Homo sapiens: one gene and its partners. The protein of the gene in region 2 interacts with the protein of the main gene of each other region in a biochemical or structural test. Each region holds a gene or a part of one and is shown on either strand. Other genes may lie near its edges. The genes, in order: PTPRH, PXN and ITGA4.

What was found.
Region 1: the proteins of PXN (region 2) and PTPRH form a complex in vitro, tested with the Homo sapiens proteins (one study listed by BioGRID).
Region 3: the proteins of PXN (region 2) and ITGA4 form a complex in vitro, tested with the Homo sapiens proteins (2 studies listed by BioGRID).

The regions. Positions count from the first base shown.
Region 1 is NC_000019.10:55,188,815-55,192,564, forward strand, and holds part of PTPRH (receptor-type tyrosine-protein phosphatase H isoform 1 precursor), read right to left. Parts: intron 2,928-3,750; coding exon 2,849-2,927; intron 2,735-2,848; coding exon 2,687-2,734; intron 1-2,686. UniProt on the Homo sapiens protein: Protein phosphatase that may contribute to contact inhibition of cell growth and motility by mediating the dephosphorylation of focal adhesion-associated substrates and thus negatively regulating integrin-promoted signaling processes.
Region 2 is NC_000012.12:120,210,093-120,213,842, forward strand, and holds the end of PXN (paxillin), read right to left. Parts: coding exon 3,750-3,750; intron 2,737-3,749; exon of another isoform or gene 2,543-2,736; coding exon of another isoform or gene 2,510-2,542; exon of another isoform or gene 2,489-2,509; coding exon 2,222-2,488; 3' UTR 355-2,221; downstream 1-354. UniProt on the Homo sapiens protein: Cytoskeletal protein involved in actin-membrane attachment at sites of cell adhesion to the extracellular matrix (focal adhesion). Recruits other proteins such as TRIM15 to focal adhesion.
Region 3 is NC_000002.12:181,523,242-181,526,991, reverse strand, and holds part of ITGA4 (integrin alpha-4 isoform 1 preproprotein), read right to left. Parts: intron 3,556-3,750; coding exon 3,460-3,555; intron 2,822-3,459; coding exon 2,742-2,821; intron 1,791-2,741; coding exon 1,701-1,790; intron 1-1,700. UniProt on the Homo sapiens protein: Integrins alpha-4/beta-1 (VLA-4) and alpha-4/beta-7 are receptors for fibronectin. They recognize one or more domains within the alternatively spliced CS-1 and CS-5 regions of fibronectin. They are also receptors for VCAM1.

The DNA of each region.
Region 1 (3,750 bases), on a different chromosome or scaffold from region 2:
GCTTGGCCCCCACCTACCCAGCTGCTGCTTGTTCATTTCCTGGGCAGGCCCCTCCTCCTCTGTCCGTCTTAAAAGGTAACTGTTCCCCAGTGTCCAACCCCAAGCCACTTTTCTTGCTGGACGCACACTTCTTACAGGGTTTGGCCCATTCCTGTAGTTTCACTTTCTTTCTTTTTCTTTTCCTTTTCCGAGAAAGAGTCTCATCCTGTCGCCCAGGTTGGAGTGCAGTGGTGTGATCTCAGCTCACTGCAACCTCAGCCTCTGGAGCTCAAGTGATTCTCCTGCCTCTGCCTCCTGCGTAGCTGGGATTACAGGTGCCAGCCACCATGCCCGGCTAATTTTTGTATTTTTAGTAGAAACGGGGTTTTGCCATGTTGATCAGGCTGGTCTCGAACTCCTGACCTCAAGTGATCCTCCCGCCTCGGCCTCCCAAAGTGCTGGGATTACAGGCGTGAGCCACCACGCCTGGCCTCTTGTCTGGATTATTACAAATCTCTTCCACATGTTAGACTTCTTCCTAAACATGTTAGACTGTGTCACTAGCCTATTCAAAATCTCCCAAGAACTCTCAGCTCACAATAAATCCAAAGTCCTAACTTTCAACTACAGGCCTGTGCCTGCTGTGGCCCCACTGACGTCTCTCTGACCTCACTTCCCACTGCCCTCCCCTTCCTCACTCTGCTCAGTCGGAGACGCACGATGTTCTCTGAACCTCACGTGTGCTGTTGCCTCAGGCCCTCCACGCGCCCATCCCTGTCCTGGGAGCGCCTTTCCCAGATGCATGCTCGGCTCCTCTCCCACTTGCGTAGGCCTGTACTCAGATGACTTCCTCTTAGTCATCTTGTTAGCAAAGCTTTCCTTGAATATCCTGCCGAAAATATTCCTGCTGGGTGCAGCGGCTCACGCCTGTGATGCAAACACTTTGGGAGGCCGAGGTGGAAGGGCTGCTTGGGGCCAGAAGTTCAAGACCAGCCTGGGCAACCTGGTAAGACCACCCCCCCGACCTCCATCTCTACAAAAAATTAAAAAATTAGCCAGGCATTGTGGTGCGTGCCTGTGGTCCCAGCTACTGGGGAGGCTGAGATGGGAGGGTCACTTGAGCCCAGGAGGTCGAGGCTGCAGTGAGCTATGATTGCGCCACTGCACTCCAGCCTGGGCCACAGAGTGAGACCCTGTCTTGACAAATTAATAAATAAAATAAAATAAAATAAAATAATTCATCTGATTTTCTCTCTAATTTATTCTAATTTTCACATTAGAAGAATATCAAAATAGGCCAGGGGCTGTGGCTCACGCCGGTAATCCCAGCACTCTGGGAGGCCGAGGCAGGTGGATCACAAGGTCAGGAGTTCAAGACCAGCCTGGCCAACATAGTGAAACACTGTCTCTACTAAAAAATACAAAAATTAGCTGGGCGTGGTGGTGCATGCCTGTATTCCCAGCTACTCGGGAGGCTGAGGCAGTAGAATTGCTTGAACCCGGGAGGCGGAGGTTGCGGTGAGCCGAGATCATGCCACTGCACTTCAGCCTGGGTGACAGAGCAAGACTCCACCTCAAAAAAAAAAAAAAAGAATATCACAATATTCCTCTACCCTTCCTATCCCCTCCTTTTGCCTTGTCTCCAAGTTTATTTATATATTTTATATATTATAAATTTATATATTATATATTATATAATTTATATATTATATTATATATAATGTATATTTTATATTGTATAATATATATAATATATAATATATTATATATATAACATATAATATATTATATATTATAAATTTATATATTATATATTATATATATTATAAATTATATATATATATAATTTTTTTTTGAGACAGAGTCTCACTCTGTTGCCCAGGCTGGAGTGCAATGGTGCAATCTCAGCTCACTGCAACCTCTGCTCCCGGGTTCAAGTGATTCTCCTGCCCCAGCCACCTGCGTAGCTGGGATTACAGGCGTGAGCCACCATGCCTGGCCCTGTCTGAAAGTTTATATCATATTTTTTATGATCTTTTTTAATTTTTTATTACTATTATTTTTTTGAGACGGAGTCTCGATCTGTCACCCAGGCTGCAGTGCAGTGGCGTGATCTCAACTCACTGCAAGCTCTACCTCCCAGGTTCACGCCATTCTCCTGCCTCAGCCTCCCAAGTAGCTGGGACTATAGGTGCCCGCCACCAAGCCTGGCTAATTTTTTGTATTTTTTAGTGGAGACAGGGTTTCACCACGTTAGCCAGGATGGTCTTGATCTCCTGACCTTGTGGTCTGCCTGCCTCAGCTTCCCAAAGTGCTGGGATTACAGGCATGAGCCACCGCACCCAGCAATCTTGTTTATTGATATCTCCTGTACTAGAATATAAGCCCCTGGCGGGCAAGAATCTTGGTTTCATTTGCTGTTTGTTTGGCACCTGGAACAGTGCCTGATACATGCTGGTGCTCAGCTGATATCTGCTGAATGAATGAATGTCCGGGAGTTGAGACCAGAACTGAATTCGCTGGCCCAGGCTGCTTGGGGAGTGAGTCACGATGGAAGGGCCGTGGTCCCTGTCGCAGAGGCATGGGCCCCTTCTGAGACCTTTGTGGGTAAATGCATTGATCCACCCTCTGACCTAGCTGGCAGCCAGCAAACACCCCTTGATTTGACCAGATTCTTTCCAATGCACCCCCCAGACCTTCTGCTCACCTAAAGACCAGATCCCTGAGTTCTGGTTTCTGCTGCTTCTTCTTATTCCTGGGAAAAGGACGTTAGGATGAGAGGCTCAGGGGGTGAGGCTGCAACCAGCGGTCCTCCTCCTTCTTCTCCAGCCCCCACCCTCCAGGCGGTCAGCCCTGTGCTGAGTCTCACCTCCTCTTCAGGAAGAAAATCAGCAGGCCCACGAGGATGAGAAACAGGAGGATGCCCACAAAGGCTCCGGCAATGACCCCTGTGGGGAGGAGGCATCGGGAACCCTCAGAGCGCAGGTCTGAGCTGCTCATCTGTCTCCAACCCTGCCCAGCCTTTCCTCTTCCCCAGGAGCCTGGTCCAAAGACAGCTGACCCCCGAACATCACACGGTGTGAATTGCGTCGGTCCAGTTATACTTACGCGCTTACCCATGGATTTTCCTCCACCCCTGAGACAGCAAGACCAGCCCCTCTCCTACCTCCTCCTCCTCCTCCGCCTACTCAACGCGAAGACTACAAGGAGGAAGACCTTTATGATGATCTACTTAATAAATAGCGAGTACATTTTCTCTTCCTTAGGATATTCTTAGTAACATTTTTTTCTTTAGCTACTTGATTATAAGAATACAGCATATAGTACGGCCGGGCGCGGTGGCTTACGCCTGTAATCCCAGCACTTTGGGAGGCGGAGATGGGCACATCACGAGGTCAGGAGATCGAGACCATCCTGGTTAACACGGTGAAACCCCATCTCCACTAAAAATACAAAAAATTAGCAGGGCGTGGTGGTGGGCGCCTGTAGTCCCAGCTACTCGGGAGGCTGAGGCAGGAGAATGGCGTGAACCCGGGAGGTGGAGCTTGCAGTGAGCCCAGATCACACTACTGCACTCCAGCCTGGGTAACAGAGCAAGACTCTGTCTCAAAAACAAACAAACAAACAAAAAGAATACAGTATGTAGTACATATTACAGATGAAATGTATGTTGTTTATGTTATTGGTAAGGCTTCCAATCAAGAGTAGGCTATTAGTAGTTAAGTTTTGGGGGAGTCAAAAGTTATGTGCAGATTTTTTTTTCTTTTTCTT
Region 2 (3,750 bases):
TCCTAGAGCCTCTTTCCCTACTTCTAAATGAGTGGAAAGCCACCCACAAGCCCGTGAGTGAGGATGCCCTTGGTAAACCCAGGTGATCACACCCTGGGCAGGCCCTGCCCCACAGGGCCCCATCCCGCTGCTCCCCAGCCTGTCCTCACCAACTGCCCAGGCAGGAGCAAAGCCCACGGGGAGGACCTGTGACCACAGGCAAGGACCACGGACCCCAGCCCCAGGGATTTTGACCTCAAGAAAGGAAACATCCACAATTTACCCTCCATCTGGTGATCCAGCTGCATCTGGGGTGGGTTTGGTCTCTGCTGGGACCATGAGGTTCAGACCACCAAGAAATAGCACTAGCACAGGTGAAAATCATGGGCAAACTTTATTGGCATAAATCACAGGAATTGAAATGGGAAAAGCCAGCTTGGAAGTTTACAGAGAAAAAATAAAATCAAAATCAAATTTTCAAATAACCACTGACTCAGAGAATGGACCCCAGAAACCCCAGTCCCTCTTGGGGAAGATCTAGGGTGGGTCACTATAAACAGAGCGGTAAGGCCTGCGGGTGAAAGTGGAGACATCAGACCTTTGGAGGGGCTGGGCTGACCTTCCCCCAAAAAGGAGGGACCCTCTTCGGAGACCCCAGCACACTCGGCTTCTGCCAGGAGGCCAGTGGAGTGGTTTGGACTGTCACCATTAGACCCCGGTGGGGCCCCTTTCTCCTCATCAGGAGCCCAAGGCCTGGCTCCTCTTTCATCCTTGGTAAAGAGCTCTGGGGGGTTTCCCCAGAGGAGCCTGTCCCTCTGCCCCAAATCCTATCATGCTCCCTTATGACCTTCTTTCCAGACCCCCTGAGTGCCGATCCCACCTGTGAAAGGGGAGGAGCAGATCTGGGGAAGGGATATGCCCAGAGGAAATCAACAAGACCAAAGAGACGTCAGAGTCCTGATGGCCAAAATCAGACACCAGCTTTCCTGAGAAGGCAGAAGAGAGAGCCCCATAGAAGCAGTGGGGGCTCAGAAGGTTCAGTGGGTTCACAGGGGAGCAGAGGCTCCTGAGGGCTTACTCAGACAGGAAGCAGCCCCCCAAAACATACTTCCCCTTCTCCTCCCACAGAAACAGAACAGATAAAGTTCAGAATTCTAGGCCCAAAAGGGTGCAACACCCTTCAACCAGTTTCAGTGAAGAGCTTGCTGGCCTGGGAAGTAAAGAAGGGGTTTCCAAATACAGCAGTTTATAAAACAGTCCTGGTGAGCTATGAAGTGAAAGAGGGGGAGTCACAGAGCTGCTCCCAGTTCACCTGCTTGTGCTAAGAAACAATAAAATACAAATTGCTTCCCCACCCCAACCCTCAGTACAAAGCAAACTTCACACCAGAGCCACCATCAGTGACAGGCCCAGTGGCGGTGGATGAGGAAGAGAATACAAAAGGGAACGTCTTTAAAATCTCTTCAAAATCATTTTGTATAGAGAAGTAAAAGCAACTCAGGCGATATGAATTCAAACCTCAGTGTAGAAATCTATCAAAGTCGGTACAGTGTCCAGGCACGCCGTCCCGGAGACGGAGGAAGTGACTAGAAAACATTATTGCTGGAGAGGCTTTTCTCAGTAGAACAAGAGCAGGTATAAAAGGGGAGGGCGGGTCTAAAAGGCAGGGGCAGTCGCCAGGCCTAGGGCACTGGAAGGGTAGGAGGAGCACAGAGAACCTTCCATGGCCCCTTTGGTTCTCTGCCTTTGGATGGATGGATTTATGCTGGCATTGTCTGGAGGGAGCCGGGTGTCCCCCAATAATCACAGAACAAAGACAATTAGGTCGGGGGAGGAATAAGGATAAAAAGAGACCCCAACAGACCCTGCCTGCCCTTCCCTGCCCCCCGGCTGCACTGCTGAAATATGAGGAAGAGATGGCTCCAGTGTGGGGTGCTGGCCAGGCCAGTTCGTGGGGACGTACATGGGCTGGGGTGGAGCCCCCAGCCTCTACCCCTGGGGAGGATGGAGAGTGGGCAGCCTAGGGAGAGCTACAGGAGGGAGGAGGGGGCCCAGAGGCTCTGGCAGGGGTGAAGACAAGCAGGGGGACCCCTCACGGCCCTCTGTCCATCCCGCACCAGCGGAGGACAAGGGTTCCAGTTTCAGTCGGGTTTACCCCTTCACCCCCGGGTGAAGTCTCTAGGTCACAGTCGCAGTTGGGGATGCTGGCTGGGGAAGGGGGGCAGAGACAGGGGCAGGGCACCTAGCAGAAGAGCTTGAGGAAGCAGTTCTGACAGTAAGGCTTGTCGTTCTGCTCCTTGAAGGTGCCCTTGTTGAGCTGCTTGAGGCAGAAGGCACAGACGAAGTGCTCGGGGTGGAACTTCTTGGCCATGGCGGTGATGCAGCGGCCGGTGATGGGCTTCTGGCAGCCAGAACACAGCGAGCCGCGCCGCTCGTGGTAGTGCACCTCACAGTAGGGCTGCCCGTCGTGCTCGAAGAAGCTGCCGTTCACGAATGGCGTGAAGCATTCCTGCCAGGCGGAGAGAGGGGCTCAGGGAGCTGCCCCTCGGGCTAGAGCTGCACCCTGTGTGATGGGGCCGAGGTGGGCATAGTCGGCACGCTCGGAGTGACTCCTACTTGCTAGGCGTTTCCCATGTGCCGTGTTGTCCTAAACGCTCATTTTTCATTTTTATTTTATTAAATAAATTTTTTTTGTAGAGATGGGGGTCTCACTATATTGCCCATGCTGGTCAAATGTGGCCTCCTGCAATCCTCCCACCTCGGCCTCCCACAGGGCTGGGATTATTTAGTTCTCCCAACAGGGGAGGCAACTGAAGCACACAGGTGAAGTAACTTGCCCAGGGTCATGCAGCTACTGAGGTCACAGCCTGGATTCATACACAGGTCTGACTCCTGAGCACTTAGCCAGGTGGCTGTAACAGTGTTCCCAGAAACACAGGTGTGACACTGGTCTGTAGTCAAACTCTGCCTCCTAGATTCTCATTGGAGATTCACATCACATATAGGTAGAAAAGGCTCTGAGAGGGGCCGGGTGAGGTGGCTCACACTTGTAATCCCAGCACTTTGGGAGGCCAAGGGAGGCGGATCACCTGAGGTCAGGAGTTCAAGACCAGCTTGGCCAACATGGTGAAACCCCGTCTCTACTGAAAATACAAAAAATTAGCCAGGCATGGGGGCGTGTGCCTGTAATCTCAGCTACTTGGGAGGCTGAGGCGGGAGAATCACTGGAACTCAGCAGGCAGAGGTTGCAGTCAGCCAAGATCGTGCCACTGCACACCAGTCTGGGCAACAGAGTGAGACTCCGTCTCAAAAAAAGAAAAGAAAAGAAAAGGCTCTGAGAAGTCCTGCAGGGAACAGTGTTTCCCAAACTCATTTGGTCAGAGAGCCCTTGTTGAATCATTAATAACCCCTGTGGGGCCCCCAGAATGCAGTGGTTTTGGAAACCACTGCCCATTTCTGTTGAGTCTGCTAAATACTTGCATTATCTCATTTAGTTCTCACACACTCTCCTCCCAAATAGGAATGGCCCAGGGCCGCTGCACAGGGCTGGACTGGGGGACATGTCTACCTTGCTCCTGGTTTGTCCCAGCCTCAGTACAAACCCTGGCCCAGGACCTACTGGACTGGAGGAAGGAGATCCCCTGCCTGCTCCCCCAATTAATAACCCCAAATGAGGCCTCTGAGTTGGATCCAGACAGCACAATGAGGAAGACCCCTCTCTCCCCACTGCCTGCTCCTCGCCCCTCCAGATGTGGTCAGGGGCTCCTTACC
Region 3 (3,750 bases), on a different chromosome or scaffold from region 2:
GGCGTGGTGGCGTGTGCCTGTAGTACCAGCTACTCGGGAGGCTGAGGCAGGAGAATCGCTTGAACCCGAGAAGCAGAGGTTGCAGTGAGCTGAGGTCACACCGCTGCCCTCCAGCATGGGCAATAGAGCGAGACTCTTAAAAAAAAAAAAAAAAAAAAAAAAAAAAAAAAGGCCATGTGCTCTGACCTGGGTGACAATATCTGTCCCTCACCGATATTCTTTTCTTGCTTTCCATGACACTACACCTTTTTCATTCTACTGACCATTCCTTCTCTTTCAGCCCTTAAGTGATTCATGTAAATTTGGCAAATGTAATGTGGGATAACTTCTTAGTTTTTTCCTAAGGTTCTCATACCTCAATTTATGTTACCCATTTTTGAATTATTTCTTCCCATCTCATGATCCCTGCTGGCTACTTATAATGAACCCCAAATCTGGGGAACAAGTCTAACATTATTAAGTATGATAAATTTTTTGTTACAATACAAGGCTGTCACTCTCTTTTAAAGGCCTGTGATTTGACATTTTTATCTGCAATAAACTCTAAGAAATATGTTTCTAGGGAGATCTCTACTCCATAAGGTGCTCACATTTGGCAGCTAATATTAGGTAATACCAAATTAGAAACTCATGAAACAGGAAAGTAACCAGCATAGATTTAGGCAGTTTAACAGGTGAACATACCTTGTTCAAAATAATGAGATGTGAATAACAGAAAAATAGGAAGACACTCATCATAAGCCAGGAGGAGTGGCAAGATAAACACTGAAAACCAGGAAACACGCAATGAACTTTTTATTTGCTTACTCGTGATTCTCTAGGTCTTACTCTCCTGTGAATGGCCTTTTTTCACCCGTTTGCTTTATCTCAAACTTGATACTCAATTCCATCAGACACTGACATTTTACATTTACATGACTGTATATCACCTTTCTAAGTGGATAAGATGACTGCGGGATGGTTTAGATTTAGAGCAACAGGAAAGGCTCATCTGTCTATTTGTTCTGTAACTCATATCTTCTACTGCATAAAAATGTAGTTTTAAGGACTAACACCATGAATAAGTTCTAGTGGAATTACTGAAGGTTTCCGTAAGCCCCCTTTTATTCTTTCTCCACACATCTCCTTCTTGAATGAGAGGGGGATCCACTCAATCATTAAAATCATGAGGAAGCAATGAATTCTGATACTGTGGTTGAGGAATCTGGTGATCCCATAGGTATAAAAAGTGGACAAGGGACACCTTGCAGCCAGATCTCTCACATCTCAATCCATTTGCCACATGTGTAGATACGGGTCTGCAGAATAGTGATTTGACTAAGTTCACACTTCTCTGAACTTCACACTTGACATGGGCATTAAGTATGATTATGCAGACTGCATACTGCCTAATTCCAGATTAGGATTACACAGTGCACAGCTGAAAGGCTCAGTGTGGCCTTGCTAGCTTGTTGGGGCTCTCACAGTAAGAAATCTCCTCCAGCTGGGTACTAGTTTGATGTAGTATCAGTGATGATTATAGAGTGGATTATTATAATGGACAGCTAAGTAAGGGACTATAACAATGAGGTAATTATTAAAAGATAGAGTATCCTTTTTATTTTAAAAAAATTCTAGAATACAGTTTTTTCATTAATGTAAGAAGCAAGGAAACTGTAAATCAGCTCTAAATTTGAAAGGAAGCCTTTATGTCTACTTACCCATGAACAGTCAGCTTAACCTCATATTTTAAAGGTATTGCTACAGTCACTCTGCTGTGCTTTAGATTGTCCATTTCCTCTTCATTTTCACTATACAAACAGAAAACACCCTGTTAGAATTCACCAAGCAGAAAAATCTTCAGAGAGAACTAATTACATACCCTGTATACCTAATATACTCAGAGGTTTGCTTAAATGCTTTTTGAGGAGTGGGGATAAAAGTAGATATGGTAGTAAAAATTTTTTAGGACAAGGTTGGCAGAAAATTTCTCTCATTATTTAAACTGTTATCATTTGCTTCTAATGCTAGATAGAGGAATTTTTTTTTTTTTAACAAATAGTTACATTTATTAGATTAAAAGATTTTTTAACATTTATGTTCTAGGTGGTACAAAAACCAGAATAAATAGGTAGTTTAGAAACAAATCTATTACTCTCTTTAGGTTGAAGAAGTATTTTTGCAAGACTTAATGATCAAAGAAAGCACATCAATCATATAATTTTTTAAACTGTATAGCAAGTCATGTACTGCCTTAACGTATCTTTATAATCAGTTTTACTTATAGAGATTTTTAGGATGAGAGGGTGACCAAGTTGTTGTGTTAGGTAAAATGAAGTCCATCTTGACGTTTATTCTGAATTTTAAAAAATATATTGAAACTTCACTCATGAAATAGTCATTAACGATTTCCTATTTACTCTAGGAGACATATCTATGGAAGTCATTACCCTCACTTTTAAATCTTGTAGAGTTATTACTTGTAAACTGTTTATTCTGTTTTTGATTTCAAATACACAGTTTGATTCGTGACACATCATGTCTACTCTAATCTAATCTAATAAATACTTAACATAGCTCAAGAGCTAAAACATTGCCAGTAACTCCCATTTAACTATGTTGTTTGGTTCTTTTAAAAGCATACCACGTAAGAGAAGTTTTCTCTTACAATTAATGGAACACAGTTTTACGGTTCTCCTAATTCCCCCCCCTCAGAATATGGGGGTATATTTCTAGTTCATTTTATTAACAATAAATTATACCAGGTAGCATGCACTGTGATACTGAGGTCCTCTTCCGCTCTGCTGAGTGAGCTCACATCCAGGAGAAAGCTAATATCTATCTGTAAAACACAGACCAGGAAAGCCCATTAAAAAAAATCTTAAGTACATTTTTTATAATCTGAATTTTTTTCTTAAAAGTTTATGTTCTATGGAATGTAGAATTGAACCATTGTAAAGGCATCAGCTACTCCTCCCTTGGCAATAAGATTCAGGGAAGTTGTTGGGTTTGTGGCTATTTTAAAGTACACACATATCCACACGTAACATTCAGAGACAAAGACGTCTCTGAATGTGAACGCAGGCAAGTCTAGACAAAATTAGAAATGCTTTCACAACTTGAGTGGAGACTCTTGCCAAAAACACCTTTTTGTATAGCAGAGGTAACATGCCTGGCAGACAGGACCACCTGCGGTGGGGGTGGGGGTTTTCGGGAAGGGTGTGTAGGGGGAGCAGAATTCTGATTGACACATGCACATGCCCATTTCGATGTAAACATGCCACCCCCTTTAAAACAGCAAACATTGCCAAGAATATAAACACAAAGCTCAAAGATTTCAAGAACCAGTTTTATTTCATCACTCAGCTACCTACCCCAAGCTAAAATATTTATAATATTTTCTATGCAACCTAAAGATAGGGAAGAATAGAAAAAAATATTCATGATAGTGAACAAAAGCCATAAATATGAAACACTTACCCTTGAGAGATGATCTACATATATATAGCCAATACTGCAGTCAAGTTGTACCACGCCAGAGTTATCTGTGACTTCACAGTTTATTTGCTTCTCTTCCTAATGGGAAAAATGAAACAACTGTTTTGGACAGGAAGGAAATAAAAAGTTTGTAACATATGTTTAAGGATGGTTATTGAAAAGAATATCATCCCAGAAGTATTTGCTTTTCTAGGAAAACTATTTTCTATTTATATGTTTGAGATAAATAGACATATGATATAAATATGTGTGCATGTGTGTATATATGTATGT